2 separate regions of the Homo sapiens genome follow, and region 2 is linked to region 1. The links come from fine-mapping of genetic effects on gene expression. Tissue or cell type: lung. Region 1 holds a variant in brackets; the other region holds the start of a gene. All regions are shown on one strand. Distances are between the middles of the regions.

The links. PIP is the estimated chance that this variant, and not a neighbour inherited with it, causes the effect.
Region 2: it holds the start of ZSCAN31, and the variant in region 1 is fine-mapped to the expression of ZSCAN31 in lung (TOPMed, PIP above 0.99). The same link has a PIP of 0.9 or more in prefrontal cortex.

The regions. Positions count from the first base shown.
Region 1 is chr6:27,525,645-27,534,140 of GRCh38, reverse strand. It overlaps TRS-AGA3-1 (tRNA-Ser (anticodon AGA) 3-1), which reads right to left and starts at 1,933; the gene lies at 1,852-1,933. The variant G/T (reference allele first, on the strand shown) is at 4,227.
Region 2 is chr6:28,331,950-28,339,949 of GRCh38, reverse strand. ZSCAN31 (zinc finger and SCAN domain containing 31) reads left to right here and starts at 3,802. Exons shown (of 4, transcript NM_030899.5): 1 at 3,802-3,868. RefSeq lists an enhancer at 4,137-4,256.

The DNA.
Region 1 (8,496 bases):
TTCTCTTCCTTAGTAGTAGGAAGAGAAACAAAACAAAACAAAACAAAACCCTTCTAGAACTCGATGGCATTATTCAGAAACTAGATCAAATGCTGTTCTTCTACAAGGCAAAATTCTGTAAGATCAATCCTTGCTCAAGATCTCTGCTCCAGCCCCAGAACCTGAACTTGAGTCTGCATGGGCTTTCCAGAAAAAAGCATCCAGAAGGAGAGAAGCTCCTATTTATGCTACCAACACTCCTCTCTAAGATATGTTTCTGTTGTTATCATTGTTAAGACGGAGTCTTGCTTTGTCCCCCAGGCTGGAGTGCAGCAGCGCGATCTCGGCTCACTGCAACCTCCATCTCTGGGGTTCAAGCGATTCTCCTGCCTCACCCTCCCACGTAGCTGAGATCACAGGCACACGCCACTATGCCCGGCTAATTTTTGTGTTTTTAGTAGAGACGAGGTTTCTCCGTGTTGGTCAGGCTGGTCTTGAACTCCTGACTGCAGGTGATCCACCTGCCTCGGTGTCCCAAAGTGCTGAGATTACAGGCGTCAGCCACTGCGCCCACCCATTTAAGATATCTTTTTGAACAAATTTATATTTTCAATTTCTGATCATATATGTCAGATGGAATACTTAACTCTACTATTAGGAATTATTTCCTCAAAAGGGCTTTAGCATTTCATTAGCTTTCACATTCTAGAATTCTATTAGATTGTTTTTCCGAATCAAAGGAACCTGCATGCTGGATGTGGGAGAGGGTAGGAGAACTGATCAGGCTCCTCCTCTGGAAACCTGAATCTCCGTACACTGAGACAAGTCTTGTTCCTCCTGCCTGCACTGCTCAGTAGAGGATTTGTGGCAGTTTACTCTCACTGCCCCACTAATTTTGAAATGCAGTGCTCTAAAGAGACACATAAAAGAAGAAAGGATCTGGTATTTTATCAATGAACAGGGCCGGCACTCTGTTTATGAAAAAATATTAGAATCATTCTTGGATGAGGTAAAATAAATCACAACTCTTTGAAGATTTGCAGAAGAGAGGTGAGGACAAGCTCCACTTAAGCTGCCAAGGCAGTGATGCGTGAATTCCCCTAGGAATTCCTAGGAAGATACTCAGCTGTGGTCAACATTCTTTTGGTCAATGCGTTAACCCATAATTGTTCATCACAATGAGATTCTGCATCTGAGCTGGGGCTCTTTCTGTGCTCAGGATATAATCGCAACCTCACCTCGGTTTTAGTCACTCTTGCTTCACCACTGTCCTGGACCCCAGGACAGGCCACTCCACTTGACATGGTTGATTTTTTTTTAATTGGGTTATGTAAAAAATTGCTTTACTCAATAATCTTTTATTATGTAGTGGTTTGCTTATAAATGCCCAATATAGATTCTCATCTTGGTGACCATGCCTGTGTGCCACTTTCTCTTGTATTTGATCATGGATTTCCTGGAATTTCCTTTTCTACGTTAAACCAGGGCATTTGCTTGACTGGAGAAGATCCCTAATAAGGGGACAATTCTGTGAGACACAAACACTCCTAGCAATTTTTTTCTCTAAGGAAAGCTGTCTTCAAAATGGGGCATCTGTTTCAGGAAACAGAAAAACATCACCCTGAGCTCTTCTTAGGGCAAAGGAAAACATCAATAATACGACTGTGATAGAAGTACTTTTTTTTGTATGACTTTTCCTCATTGTTTCAGAGACATGGAGTATTTTTAGTGGGTCCATAAAGAGGAAAAGCCTACAGGTTGGAACAAGCAAGCTTCTTCCTGAGAGACAATAACAGACTTTCAACCTGGCAAGACACCGGACTTTCAATCTGGCAAGGTGTCAGTAGACTCCCTTTCCAACAAGAAAGGGACCGTAGTCGGCAGGATTCGAACCTGCGTGGGGAAACCCCAATGGATTTCTAGTCCATCGCCTTAACCACTCGGCCACGACTACGTGAAGGACACTTTGTCCATTAGCATAAGTCACTGTACTGAACTTTAGCTCCCTTGGAAAGGTCAAATTTTCTGCCAAAAAGTGTATTCGCTGTCAATGTTTCTTATTTTTTGACATCAGTTAGATGACTATCATGCTGTTGTGGTAAACTGACAAGTAACACTTTATCCTCGGACCTAGGAGGACCCCTTATTCTGATGTTTTGATGGAAGGAGACTACGCGGGGAGGCATTCCCAGAGACCAAGCTTCCTGCTCCATCCGCTTCTGATGGTGTTCCAGGAAACACCCGCAACAATTGCGACAAGCTCTAACATTTGCTGCAGAATTTTGAGTTATAGCAATGATTTGAACAACCTCAAATGGCCATCGATGTTTGACTTTTAAAATAAATTTTGGAAGATCCATATAATGGAAGATTCTGCAATTGATAAAAGGAATGAGATGCACTTCTATTTACTGAAAGGAAATGCACTAGTATTTCAGTGGTAGCCCAGTAAGAGGCTACACTTAGTAAGAGGATACACTAGAAATCCACTTATTGTCAGTTTGAGAGCCTGGTATTGCCTCTAAGAAACTTCATCTTTTCCCCTTGACAACTCCCCCTTTGACCTCCAGTAAAGGACTCCCCCTGCATCTCAAATCAAAGGTAGATTTTTACTACCTTTTTTTTTTCTTTTTTAAGTCCCCACTTATTTAAATGCCCTTTGAATGCTTATCTGAGCTTCACTAACGATTCTGGGAAACAAAAAGTAGATTTACTCACTTAGTGTGGTTTCCAGGTAGAAGAAAGAGAGATGAGGAGTAAACTCAAGGTCTTAATTCCTTATTCTGTCAGTTTTGGTAAATCATCTCTTGAAGGAAATCTGTCCTAAATTGTCAAATCTATTTACAAAACATTGTTCATACTGTATTCTTAGTATATTCTTGATGTCTATATACTAAAATGTAATGTTATCCTATATTTATTCCTGGTATTAGTATTTTCTGTTTTCTCTTCGTTTTGTTGAACAATCCTTGATTTAGAACAATAGTTTTGTCAATCATCCCTAAATGCCTGTTTATGGCTTTGTTGATATTCTCTGTTTGTTTGTGTGTGTGTGTGTTCTATCTTTTTATAATCTTGTTTCTAACATTTTAATTTGCTCTTTTCCTCTAAATTATTGAGAAAAAAGCTTTAACATCAAATATTGAAACATCTTTATTCTAATATATGCAAGTAGAACTATAAATTAGACTTTGGGCACAGTTTAGCTGCATTACACAAATTTTTATATATCTTATTTTATCTTTCATTTTAACTAAATGTGATTTCTTTAAGCTATGGCTTTGGATGAGTGTTTTTTCATTTAGTAACATTTTGGGGTTTTCCATTTTATTTCTGATATTGATTTTATTTTTATTATGCTGGGCCCACAGAATATATTCTGTGTCATTTCAATCCTTGTACATTTTTAAAGACTTGCATTAGGGCCCACCAAGGGTATTTAAAAATAATATGTAAATCAACATAAAAAAATCAGTAGCATTTCTATATAAACATAATGACCTAACTGAAAAACAAATCAAGAAAACAATCTCACTTATGATAGCATCAAAAAATAAAATACTTAGGAATAAATTTGACCAAGGAGATGAAAGATTTTTACACTGAAAACTATAAAATGTTGAAAGAAATTAATGACAACATAAATAAATGGAAAGATATCCAATGTTCATGAATTAGAATAGTTAATAATGTTAAAATGTCCATGCCATCCAAAGCAATATACAAATTCAGTACAGTCCTTATCAAAATTCCAAAGGGACATTCTTCACAGAGGTAGAAAAAATAATCCTAAAATTCATATGGAATCACACACACACACACACACACACACACATGCACCAAATAGCCATAGCAATACTGAGAAAGAAAAACAAAGTTGGAGGCATCACACTTGTTGCTTTAAAATTATATTATAAAGCTAAAATAATCAAGACATATTGTTCTGATAGCAGCATAATCATTCCTGAATAGAAACAGAAACAGACCAATGCAACAGAATAGACAGCCCAGAAAAAAACTCAAACATATACTGCCAACTAATTTTTGATAAGGGCATCAAGAGGACACAATGGGGGAAAGAATAATCTCCAGCCGCCCCGTCCGGGAGGGAGGTCGGGGGCAGCCCCCGGCCGGCTAACCGCCCCGTCCGGGAGGTGGGGGGGGGGCCCCGCCCGGCCACCGCCCCGTCTGGCAGGTGGGGGGCGCCTCTGCCCGGCCGCCCCGTCTGGGAAGTGAGGAGCTCCTCT[G/T]CCCGGCCGCCACCCCGTCTGGGAGGTGTACCCAACAGCTCATTGAGAACGGGCCATGATGACGATGGCGGTTTTGTCGAATAGAAAAGGGGGAAATGTGGGGAAAAGAAAGAGAGATCGGATTGTTACTGTGTCTGTGTGGAAAGAAGTAGACAGGGGAGACTCCATTTTGTTCTGTACTAAGAAAAATTCTTCTGCCTTGGGATGCTGTTAATCTATAACCTTACCCCCAACCCCGTGCTCTCTGAAACATGTGCTGTGTCCACTCAGGGTTAAATGGATTAAGGGCGGTGCAAGATGTGCTTTGTTAAACAGATGCTTGAAGGCAGCATGCTCGTTAGGAGTCATCACCACTCCCTAATCTCAAGTACCCAGGGACACAAACACGGCGGAAGGCCGCAGGGTCCTCTGCCTAGGAAAACCAGAGACCCTTGTTCACATGTTTATCTGCTGACCTTCCCTCCGCTATTGTCCTATGACCCTGCCAAATCCCCCTCTCCGAGAAACACCCAAGAATGATCAATAAATACTATTAAAAAAAAAATTAAAAAAAAGACATAGAGAATTAAAAAAAAAAAAGAAGAAGAATCTCCAATAAATGATGCTTGGAAAACTGGATTTCCACATGCAAAATAATGAAATTAGACTCTTATACCATACACAAAAATCAACTCAAAATGGATAAAACACCTAAATGTAAGACCTGAACACAAAACTTCCATAAGAAAACAGGGGGAAAGCTCTTCGTCATTGGCCTTGGCAATAATTTTTTTGGATATCATGCCAAATGTCCAGGATACACAACAAAAATAAATAAATGGGACCACACCAAACTACAAAGTTTCTGCACAGCAAAGAAAACAATCAACAAAATAAAAAGGCAACTTACAGACTGGGGAAAAGGAGTTAATATTCAAAATTTATAAAGAACACTTATAACTCCATAGCAGAAAAACAAATAACCTGATTAAAAAATGGTCAAAGAGACTTACCTTCTGAGCACAGCTGGCAGCACTACAGTCTCATGAAAAATGTGCAAAGGATCTGAACAATTTCTTCAAAGAAGACATAAAAGGGCCAATATGCATATGAAAATGTGCTCAACAACATTAATCATCAGGAAAATGCAATATTAAACCACTATAAGATATAACTTTACACCTGTTAGGATGGCTATTATCAAAAAGACAAGAGACAACAAATGTTGGCAAGGGTGTGGAGAAAAGAGAACCCTAGTACACTGTTGGTGAGAATGTAGATTTGTGCAGTCATTATGGAAAACAGCATGGATGTTTCTAAAGAAATTAAACATAGAACTACCATATGACCCAGCAATTCCTCTCCTGGATATAAACCCAAAGGAGATACAATTACTACCTCGTAAAAGACATCTGTACTCCCACATTCACTGAAGCACTATTCATAATAGCCAAGATATGGAAACAAACTATGTTTGTCAATAGATTAATGGATAAAGAATCTGTGTGTGTGTGTGTGTGTGTGTGTGTGTGTGTGTGTGTGTGTGTGTGTGTGTGTATAATATTACTCAGCCTTAAAAAAGGAGATTCTACCATTTGCCACAACATGGATGACCCTGGAAGATATTATGCTCAATGAAATAAGCCAGACATAGAAAGAAAAATACTATGAGATCTTACTTATATGTGGATATATATTTAAAAAAAAAAAAAGGTCAAACATACAGAGAGAATAAAAAATTGGTTGCCAGGGGTAGCTGAGGAGAAAAGAAATAGGGTAATGTAGGTTAAAGGATACGAAGTAGCAGATATGTAGCATGAACAAGTCTAGAGAGCTAATGTACAACATGGAGACTCTAGTGAATTGAATTGTATTATATTAGGGATTTTTGTTAAATGAGTAGAGTTTAGATGTTTTGTCCAAAAAAAATGTAACTATGTGAGATGATACATGTTAATTTGCCTCATTGGAACAATCATTTTACTATCTACATATATTTCATAGCATCATGTTGTAAGCATCAAATATACACAATACAATATCTTTTAATAAATAAATAATATATATTTTTAGTTGAGTGTAGTGTTCTATATTTGTCATTTAGGTAAATAGATTTGTTTAAATAATCTTTATCTATACTGAAATATCATTAAATGTGTATTGTAAAATTTCTGTGGCCATGGAGGTGCGCTGCTCAGATCTTCCTTCAAGGAAGAACTTGTTTTCAGTTGCAAGAAATGCTGTCAGCTGACAGCCTCCAAGGCACTTTTACCATCTTCAGCTACAGCACTTTTACCGTCTTCTACAGTGTTCAAACTGAGGTTGTTTTCTTCTTGGTGAGCAGAGTGGGTGTACGCTAAAGCCTGGCCATTTCCGCTTGACTGGGGTCTTATCTATGAGCAATTTCTATACCAAAGCTGGACGAGACTTTCTCAGAGCTGTGCCAAAACCTCAGGGTTTTTCTACCCAATCCTACTTTCTTCCTTCTCTAATTTTGCCCATGCCAGACCCACATCATGGTCTGAAATCTCTTACTGCATTCATCTTTCCTTCTCCTCTTTGTTTATTGTTATGGGCATTATTGTCAATAACCCCTTGCACTTGTAATGCATCTTAGTGTTTGCTTTCCAGCGATCCCAAACTTTCACAGCTGGTATCAGAAGAGGTCTGTGAAAGCAGATGGTAAAATGTGATTTGACAACTATATTACTCACTGCCAAGCTGGCAAGGAGGACCCCAGCTTGAGTGGTATGAGTGCTCAAGGAGTCTCTGAAACAAAGTGACATATAATTGCTAAAAATTTCTGGTTTTTATATGAGTTCTTGAGATAGATGTTTTAAAAATCTCTATGGTGCGGATGACGTTGTAAAATGTTTGTGTGATGATTCATGTGTTTTTAAGTTGAAAACATGGGTGACAAGCCATACAATAATGATTATCTGGCTATGTAAGCAGAGGGGGCTTAACCTACAGAGCTGTGAAGATAGTTAATACAGCATAGTGTCCCTAAGGGTAGAAAAGGCAGGCCGGGCAGGGTGGCTCACACCTGTAATCCTAGCACTATGAGAGGCCGAGGCGGGTGGATCACGAGGTCAGGAGTTCAAGACCAGCCTGACCAACATGGTGAAACCCTGTCTCTACTAAAAATACTAAAATTAGCCGGGCGTGGTGTCCTGCACCTGTAATCCCAGCTACTCAGGAGGCTGAGGCAGGAGAATCACTTGAACCTGGGAGGGGGAGGTTGCAGTGAGCCGAGATCGTACCACTGCACTCCAGCCTGGGTGACAGAGCGAGTCTCTGTCTAAAAAAAAAAAAAGAAAAGAAAAGGCAGTGAATGTTTGTGCTGCATAATACACAAAATCAAAATAAGCAAGGGCAAATGAACAGGAGGCTGAGAACACTTCCCTAATATAAAATAATCTTTTAGGCCGGGCGCGGTGGCTCACGCCTGTAATCCCAGCACTTTGAGAGGCCGAGACGGGCGGATCACGAGGTCAGGAGATCGAGATCATCCTGGCTAGCACGGTGAAATCCCGTCTCTACTAAAAACACAAAAAAATTAGCCGAGCGTGTTGGTGGGCGCCTGTAGTCCAGTTACTTGGGAGGCTGAGGCAGGAGAATGGCGTGAAGCCGGGAGGCGGAGCTTGCAGTGAGCCGAGATCGCACCACTGCACTCCAGCCTGGGCTACAGAGCGAGACTCCATCTCAAAATAATAAGAATAAGAATAAGAATAAGAATAAGAAAGAATAAGTCTTTCCGGGCGCAGTGGCTCACGCCTGTAATCCCAGCACTTTGGGAGGCCGAGGCAGGCGGATCACCTGAGGTCAGGAGTTTGAGGCTAACCTGATCAACATGAAGAAACCCTGTCTCTACTAAAAATACAAAATTAGGCCGGCGTGGTGGCATATGCCTGTAATCCCAGCTACTCGGGAGGCTGAGACAGGAGAATCGCTTCAACCCAGGAGGCGGAGGTTGCGGTGAGCTGAGATCATGCCATTGCACTCCAGCCTGAGCAACAAGAGCGAAACTCCGTCTCAAACTAATAATAATAATAATAATAATAATTATAATAATAATAATAATCTTTTAATGAGTTATTGGACCAAAGCCTGACTCCCCTTTTTTTTTTTTTTTTTTTTTTGAGACACTGTCTCGCTCCGTTGCCCAGGTTGGAGTGCAGTGGCGCGATCTTGGTTCACTGCAAGCTCCGCCTCCCGGGCTCACGCCATTCTCCTCCCTCAGCCTCCAGAGTAGCCGGGGCTACAGGCGCCCGCCAACACGCCCGGCTAA
Region 2 (8,000 bases), 810 kb before region 1:
GGATTCTACACTTGCAGTTTCTTCAAATGCCCTGGCCTGGAATGATACCTAGCAATGTGTTTACATGGTTCATATGCCTGCAAAATTTGAGGGGAAAAAATGGATATTTTAGCAACAGGTGTTTAAACCACTGTTTGTTTCCATTTCTGACTCCCCATCTCTTATTTTTCTCTTGTTGAGTGGCACTGAAATAACAATAGAGAATTTTAGCATCTGGTAAGGGGACACTATCTTAGAAATAAGTCATTTTAACTACAATTTGAAAAGATATTTTGGCATGATTTAAGCAATAAATGCTAAATTACAAAATTAAATAATTTATTAAAGAACTGAGAGCAAATTTAAATTTAAAAATTAATGGAGGCTAGGCGTGGTGGCTCATGCCTGTAATCCCAGCACATTGGAAGGCCAAGGTGGGCAGATCACCTGAGGTCAGGAGTTTGAGACCAGCCTGGCCAACACGGCGAAACCCCGTCTCTACTAAAAATACAAAATTTGCCAGGCGTGGTGGCACATGCCTGTAATCCCAGATACTCGAGGTATGAGAATCGCTTGAACCTGGGAGGCAGAAGTTGCAGTGAGCTGAGATCGAGCCACTGCACTCCATCCTGGGAAATAGAGCATGACTCCTTCCCCACTCCCCTGCCAAAAAAAATTAATGGAATGTGAGAAACAAAAGAAATAAAGATAATAAAATCAATGGAAATTATTCTGACATCAGGAAGCAAATTATAACAAAAGAAACAATGTCAAATTATATAAAATCAGCAACTCATTAAGAAAAAAAGCTAAACTTTGAATACAGTAAAAAAATATGCTCTTGGATTAATTCTCTAGTGAAGAAAAGTGAATCACTGAACACATTGAAAAGAGATTTAAATTTCTTGCACATTTTACATAAAATACTGATATTGACAAAGACATCATAATATGCCATTGACAATGAGGACATCTAAGACCAACTAGTTAATGTGTCATCAACACAGAGATTCTCAGATTAGTCCCCACATAAAAAAATTTGAATGTCCTGAAATCTTGTAGCTCATAATTGAAAGAAACTTGATAGAAGTTTACTCAAATGTCAACAATTTTAAAAAGCTTTTGATCAACCATGCTAGAGGAATGGCTACATTAACTTTTTATTCTTTCTAGAAAAATTTAAATTATGAAATTAACATACAAAGAAGCAGTCCAAGAACATAAAGCCAACAAATTAGGGGAGAGTTACTATAGAGGAGTCAGGCAGTTAAATAATAAAAATATTTTGTTATTTTTCTGATTTTTGTTTGTGATATTTGGAAGACTTTAAAATTTGTAGTATAGCTGGATGTGGTGGCAGCAGCTCACACCTTTAATCCCAGCATTTTGGGAGGCAGAAGCAAGAGGATTGCTTGAGCACAGGAGTTTAAGGTTGCAGTGATCACACCACTCCACCCCAGCTTAGTTGACAGAACGAGACCCTGTTCTGTCTCGTTTTGTAATTGTAATTATCATTACAATTACAAAAAAAATTGTAATGTGATGTAAAGAATGTATTTTCCATTCTATATTTATTTATTTATTTTTCGAGATGGGATCTCACTCTGTCAGCCACGCTGGAGTGCAGTGGCACAATCTCAGCTCACTGAAAACCCCACCTTCCAGGCTCAAGCAATCCTCCCACCTCAGACCCACAGGCATGTGCCACAATGCCTGGCTAATTTTTGTATTTTGGGTAGAGATGGGGTTTCACCACGTTGCCCAGGCTGGTCTTGAACTCCTGAGCTCATGCAATCTGCCTGCCTCAGCCTCCCAATGTGCTAGGATTATAGGCGTGAACCACCACGCCTGGCCTATTTTCCATTCTAAATCTCCATTTTTGTTTTTTTTCTTTTTCCTTCTTTATTTATTTATTTATTTAATTTTGGAGACAGGGTCTCAGTCTGTCACTCAAGCTAGAGTGCAGTGGCACGATCATGGCTACTGCAGCTGGTGATTATCCCTGCTCAGCCTCCCCAGTAGCTGAGACTAATAGCATGAGTAACTGTGCCTGGATAATATTTTTTATTTTTTGCAGAGACAGAGTCTCACTATGTCGCCCAGGCTTGTCTTGAACTCCTGGACTCAAGAGATCCTCCCATCTCGGCCTCTCAAAGTGTTGGGATTACAGGCGTGAGCTATTACACCTGACTTAAGTCTCCATTTTCATATCTATGTTTGTACTTGTAATTTTGTATTCCTTTTCTCAAATAAGGTCTCTTGAATTGTATAAGCTGGGTCTCTTTCTGTCTGTATTCCTTGTTACATTATAAACCCCATGAGGATGAGGACCTTGTGTCCTTCATTATTATTATATCCAGCAAGCCCTTGGCACAAAGATCGCATTCAATGGGAATCTATATAATTAATGAATGAGTTGTAAAAAATCAATTCAACCTCTTAACATGTATTATCTGTCTTCTCTATTTCTATTGCTACTGCCTTGATTCAGGCCCTCACTCTCTCTACCCTGGATTCTTGTAGTAGTCTCCTAGCTGGTCTCCCTGCCTGTAGTCTCATTTCCTTACAGTCCATCCCCACATGGCTGCCAAGATAACATTTCTAGATGTAAATTTGATCAGACTGCTCAAATTCCTTGGTTAGGGATCCAAAAAAAGTAAGAGCTGGTGCCCCTGCCACATATACCACTCTCCAGTCATGCTGATCAGCCCAGTTCTTTGGATGTACCAAAGGATTTCACCCCAGTTCTGCTTTTGTACATTTGATTCCCTCTCCCAGAAATTTATTTCCTTTGCTCCTTTTCCAGTGTACACTGGCAGATTCCTGCTGAGTCTTGTTTTGCCCCATTAGTTTTCCTCTCTCTTCCACGCCACGAATTCAAACTAATACATACATTTATTTCCTACATACGTACTTAGCATGTTCCAGAGGCTATTCTCATCGATTTACAAGCACTTATTTTATTTTACTTCATTTCACATGCACGTCTGTTTTACGCAGTTACTTGTTTACACGCTCTTCTTCTAGACTTTGGGATTCCAGAAGACAGAGGTTTGAGTGTAAAACACAAAATAACAAAACCACAACAAAAACAACTCTGTATTCTCGTCCCCACCATTACCATCTCTCCTTTGTGATGTCAAAGAGACCAGAGGAAGTGGACAGACTCGGGGAAGAATAGGTAAGTATTAGAGACAGAAAAAGTATGAAGTCCCTTCTGTGAGGACTAACAATAGTGATGCCATTTTACAACCTTGATGACTGTGTTCTCAAGAAACAAAGCAAATGTCAACCCCGTCCATAGCTTCAACAGAGCATAACAGCTCTAACCGCAACAGAGCCTAACGGCCCTAACCACATCTGTCCCCAGTTGGAAAGTGTCCAAACAGTTCCAACTAGCCAGCACTTCCCCAACCCCTCCCCAACAGAAACTTTATTATAAAAGCCTCAGCTTGTAAGCGATCAGGATCTCAGCCAGATTCCTAACTGGAACTCTTCGCAGGCTTTTCCTGTAAATAAACCTGTTTGGCCGTGGAATTGCCTCCTGTTACTCGCTCTCTACGTTTATATCTTCCTAACACCTTCCGGCTCTAATGTTTTGGGTCTCGATGACCATCTAACTCCTAAATGCTGGGGGCCGCTCCCCATAGAAATGCCTCGCCGGATTTCTCCGCCTCGCACCCAGTGGGACTGGGATTTTTGGCCCCGGGGTTTGCAATAAGGGAGTCACCAAGCAGCAGCCACCTCTGGAATTCCTAGAAAGGAAAGAGTTGCCTGGCTTCAGCCAGTGGGCTCAGAACGGCTGACGCATTTCCGGCCTTTGCGGTTGATCGGTCATTGGGGTGCTGCAGCCCCGCCACCTGTTCCGTAGCTTGCCGGTGCCCCGAAGGTGAGTCTTGGCCCCTTGTCGCGACCCGCCAGGTTCCCAGAAGATTTCAGGTCTGTGCCTTGGAGTAGGCGGGGAGGGAACGTCTGCGCAGGCGTGACCCCCGCCCCTACACATTCACTGGCCTGAAGCCCCCGTGGAGTAGGTGGAGGTCCCGCCCCTTATCCTGAAGATTAAACAGCCTTTCTTTGTCTGAGATAACGCCCGGAGTTCTTTGTCCTGCCTCCAAGACGATAAAGGAGCGCAGACACAAAGGTGAGGTTAGAGCGAAAGTTTAATAAGCGAAAGGAAAAAGCTCTCTGCCAGCAGAGAAGGGGTCCCGACCGGGAGTACCCATTATGGGGCCCGTTCTGGGGTTTTTATGGACTGGAAAGGAGAGGGAATGCGCTTAGTCTGCGGGCTGTCCTGGCGAACGCTTGACTCAGCTTGGTCCGGGACCAATCAGGAGCTGAAATGATGATTCATAGCTGCTGCTTAGCTTGGCCCAGGACCTATCAGAAGCCGAAGTGAAAGTTTGGCCCCGGACCAATCAGGGGCTGAGGTGATGATTCACAGAAGCTGGGCTTATAGTCCTAATAAAGGAAAGTAGAGCGCCTGCCGGAACCTACCAGAACCCACCGTGTCCATACCCACAAAAGGAGAAGAAACTTTTCCTGGGAACCTGCTGACTATACAAAGGACAAAGGCATTATGTGTCAGGCCTTGTTCCCTTATCTGAGTGAGCTGGAGGTTCTGTGCAAGTTTTTATCCAAATGGGCCCGAGGTTTTTCTATCTATGCAGCCGTGGGCATATCTCTAGGCACAACACCCTGTGCTAGTTCCCTTATCGGTGCCTGCAACCTGATTTTTTCCCCAGGCTTAGTTTTATGTTATGTGGGGATAAGACACTAAATCATGGGCGGGGGCAGGCTCTCCAGGGACCCTTCCCTTGCTATCCACCTAAGGCAAGCTAGGTAGCCCTTTCACAGGGTGGTGGGAGAGACCCCTAGAGAGGTCGGAGCTTTGCGGCGAAACCGAGGTCCAGAGGTAGAGAAGGGTCTCTCCCTGTCAAAAGCCTTATTTCCTATATACACGTAATTTTTATTTAATAAGTCAACATTATGCAATGTTTGTCGCATATGTTTTCTTTAAATATTGTAAAAACCACCAACCTCATAACTTGTCACCTCTAGTTTCTAATGCATCTCTAAAAATTGGGGACATTTCCCTACATAACCACAAGATTATTAGCACACCCAACTAAGTGTAGGCGCTTCACCTAACACCTAGTTCATGTTTAAATCCTTCCACCCCCTGTTGTCCCACAGATGTCTTTTATACCTGTTTGTACCAACTAGGATCCAATCATAGACCACTCACTGCATGTAGTTGAGTCTTAACCTAGGGCAATTTTACTCTTTGCCTCCCTTCCTCCCATCCCATTGCCTTGTTTAAAAGGAGGCTCTTCCAGTCTTCCTGTAGTGCATCCCCATTTCTGGATTTGACTGTTTCCTCATGGTATTTAAGGTCTTCTTCTGTTTTCTTGTCATCGTAATTGGTATCCTTTGGGATTTATTTTACAACACACATGATTTGTGATTTACATGATCTCTTTGTTGCTGTTGTTAATTATGCTGACGTGAATGAAAACATTCTCATGAATGAAAACATTCTCTTTTATGCTCTTTCTGCCATGTTTTTATTTCGGTGAAGGACAGTGGGGACACATCAAATTCTGCATTGTTTCACTCTTTGCTGTCTGACACCTCGTAAACACTTAGTAAATATATGTGAAATGAATTCCTTTGTGGATTACAGGCAATGCATAAAAACTTAATCTTGTATTTAGGATGAGCTCTTCCACTTCCTCCAGGGGTATACCTTGTATACATTTTTTAAATTATGGCTTTTATTTTATTGTATTGTAACTATATCCTCATGAGCTATAAACACCTCTATATTCCAAGCTCTTAGCTCAGCTCCATAAATTGATTGTCCAGTGACTGAACTGCTTTTACAAAGGTTAAGCTCTTTCTCCTTTCACTTGTACAGTAACATCTAAACTAAGTGGAAGTCTTTCTAGATTCAGTGCAATAGTCTTCACCCCCTCCACTTTACCCTTTTTTTTAACTCTTGCCTCTTCTGCTTCTACTCTTGCTTTCTGCTTCCACTTTTGCCTCTACCCTCATTCCCTCAGCTCATTCTCCATCCAGTAGCAGAGCTTCTCGGTACAGAATTCAGCCTTGTCACTCCCTTTCTTAAAGCCTTCAGTGGTTTCTCATTGCATTTATAAAATCCTAACTCCTATGCCCTACATGATCTGACTCCTGCTTGGCTTGCCAGCCTAATATTTTGCCACTCTTCTCCCACATGACTGTAGACACTCCAGCCTCCTTTCCTGTCTTTGATGGCAGCATGCACTTCCTCAGGGCCTTTGGATAGTCCAGAGTGCTCTTCCCCTCCCTCATCCCTATTCTGTATGGCTCACTTCTTTTGCACTTAAGGGCTTGGCTTAAATGTTACCTCACTTCCCACTACCCCATCTAAATAGGCTGTCCATTTATTTGGTAACTCAGTGCCTAGTTTATTATCCTCAGTAATCATCACAACTCATAATTATTTTATTTGCCTCCTTACTTATTTTTGTTGTTGCTTTTATTTTTGGTTTGTCTTCCCCGTTAAAATGTTTGCTCCAGCAAAACAGGGCCTGGTCCCGTCTTTTTCACCATTGTAGCCCTAATGCCCAGCCAAGTACCTGGTATGTTATGAGTGCTCAATGAACATTTATTGACTAAATGAGCAAATAAATAGGTTAGTTACTAGTAATGAGTCTCTCCTTGTCCCTTGCCTCCTGGGCCTTAGTTGCTGATAAAGTCATAAGCTGAGTCAGCAGTCAACTACCTTTTATTTTTCTGTCTCCCTTTCATGAGTGTGGAAGTCCACTGCAGGTCCTGGAATGAAACAGTGAGCCTGGTTCCCTACAACCTGAGACACACCACATTTAATCCCCCAGGAGTTGAATTCTAGGATGTCTTTGACTGTTTCTGCAGTCAAGTCATCAACTCCACTAACTACTCTGTGTTTGTGTTTCTGGTCCACTGAGATTTTTGTCTTGTATTTGTAGCTGGCCATGTCTTTCTCTTTATCCCCTTTTATATATCATCTCCCAATGCCAAATGTTTGGAGTCAATTTGGTAATTAATCATAAATTGGCCTGTTTCATATCACCCTGGAAATCTAAATCCAATCTTTAATGTTGCTTTTGAGCTGTTGTTGGGATGTTCAGGGGGACACCCCTGGTGGTATCTAGAGATGGGCTTCAGTACACAAATGGGAGGTCACCACTGGTCACAGTCTGTCCTGGATTTTCTTGAATATTTCTTCTAGTATTTTCAACTGTCTACTGACTATTAACATATGAAGTCAATATTTTATTTTGTTGGGTCTATTTCCTCTATGAAATGAAGATATTCAATTTACTAATACTACTTTACTAATAATACCTGCTCATTGATATTTATGTAATGATTGCTATGGGCCAGGTACTGCGCTAAGCTTTTTATATGCGTTACCTTGTATAATCATAACACCTATAAGAGGAGTACTATGGTCATTAACACTTAGAGAGGCCACAGGATTTGAACGTTATTCACTGTACTGCAGTGCTTCAGTAAAGATCATTTTAAATAGTTTATTCCATTTAATTTGTCAGATGTCTATCAAGTATTTGTTCCCTGCTAGGATATCAGATGACACCAAATTTGCATTTAATCGAATAAATCAGGTAAACAAAACATTGAAGATGCGTTCATAATTTTGTGGTAAGTCCAGACTTCTAAGTCTTCTAGGCATTTTAAAAATAAGAAGTGTCTGTAATCTGTAGCAGTTTGGGAGAGGAGATAGGAAGAGATGGGAGGACTGGCTGGGAACACAGGGTAATGCATATACATCCTGGGAACAGGGGTGGTTTGGGGGACAAGAAGAAAGAGTGTATTTTCCCTTCTGTGTTCCTTTCCCTGTCCTTACCATGGCTTGATGAAGTGAAAGGGGATATAGGAGGGGAGAATATATTTATTTGCCCAGAAAACATTTATGGAGCACTGACAGTGGGCCAGGCACTGTGCTATGCATTAAGGATAAAGACAGTTCATGGTGG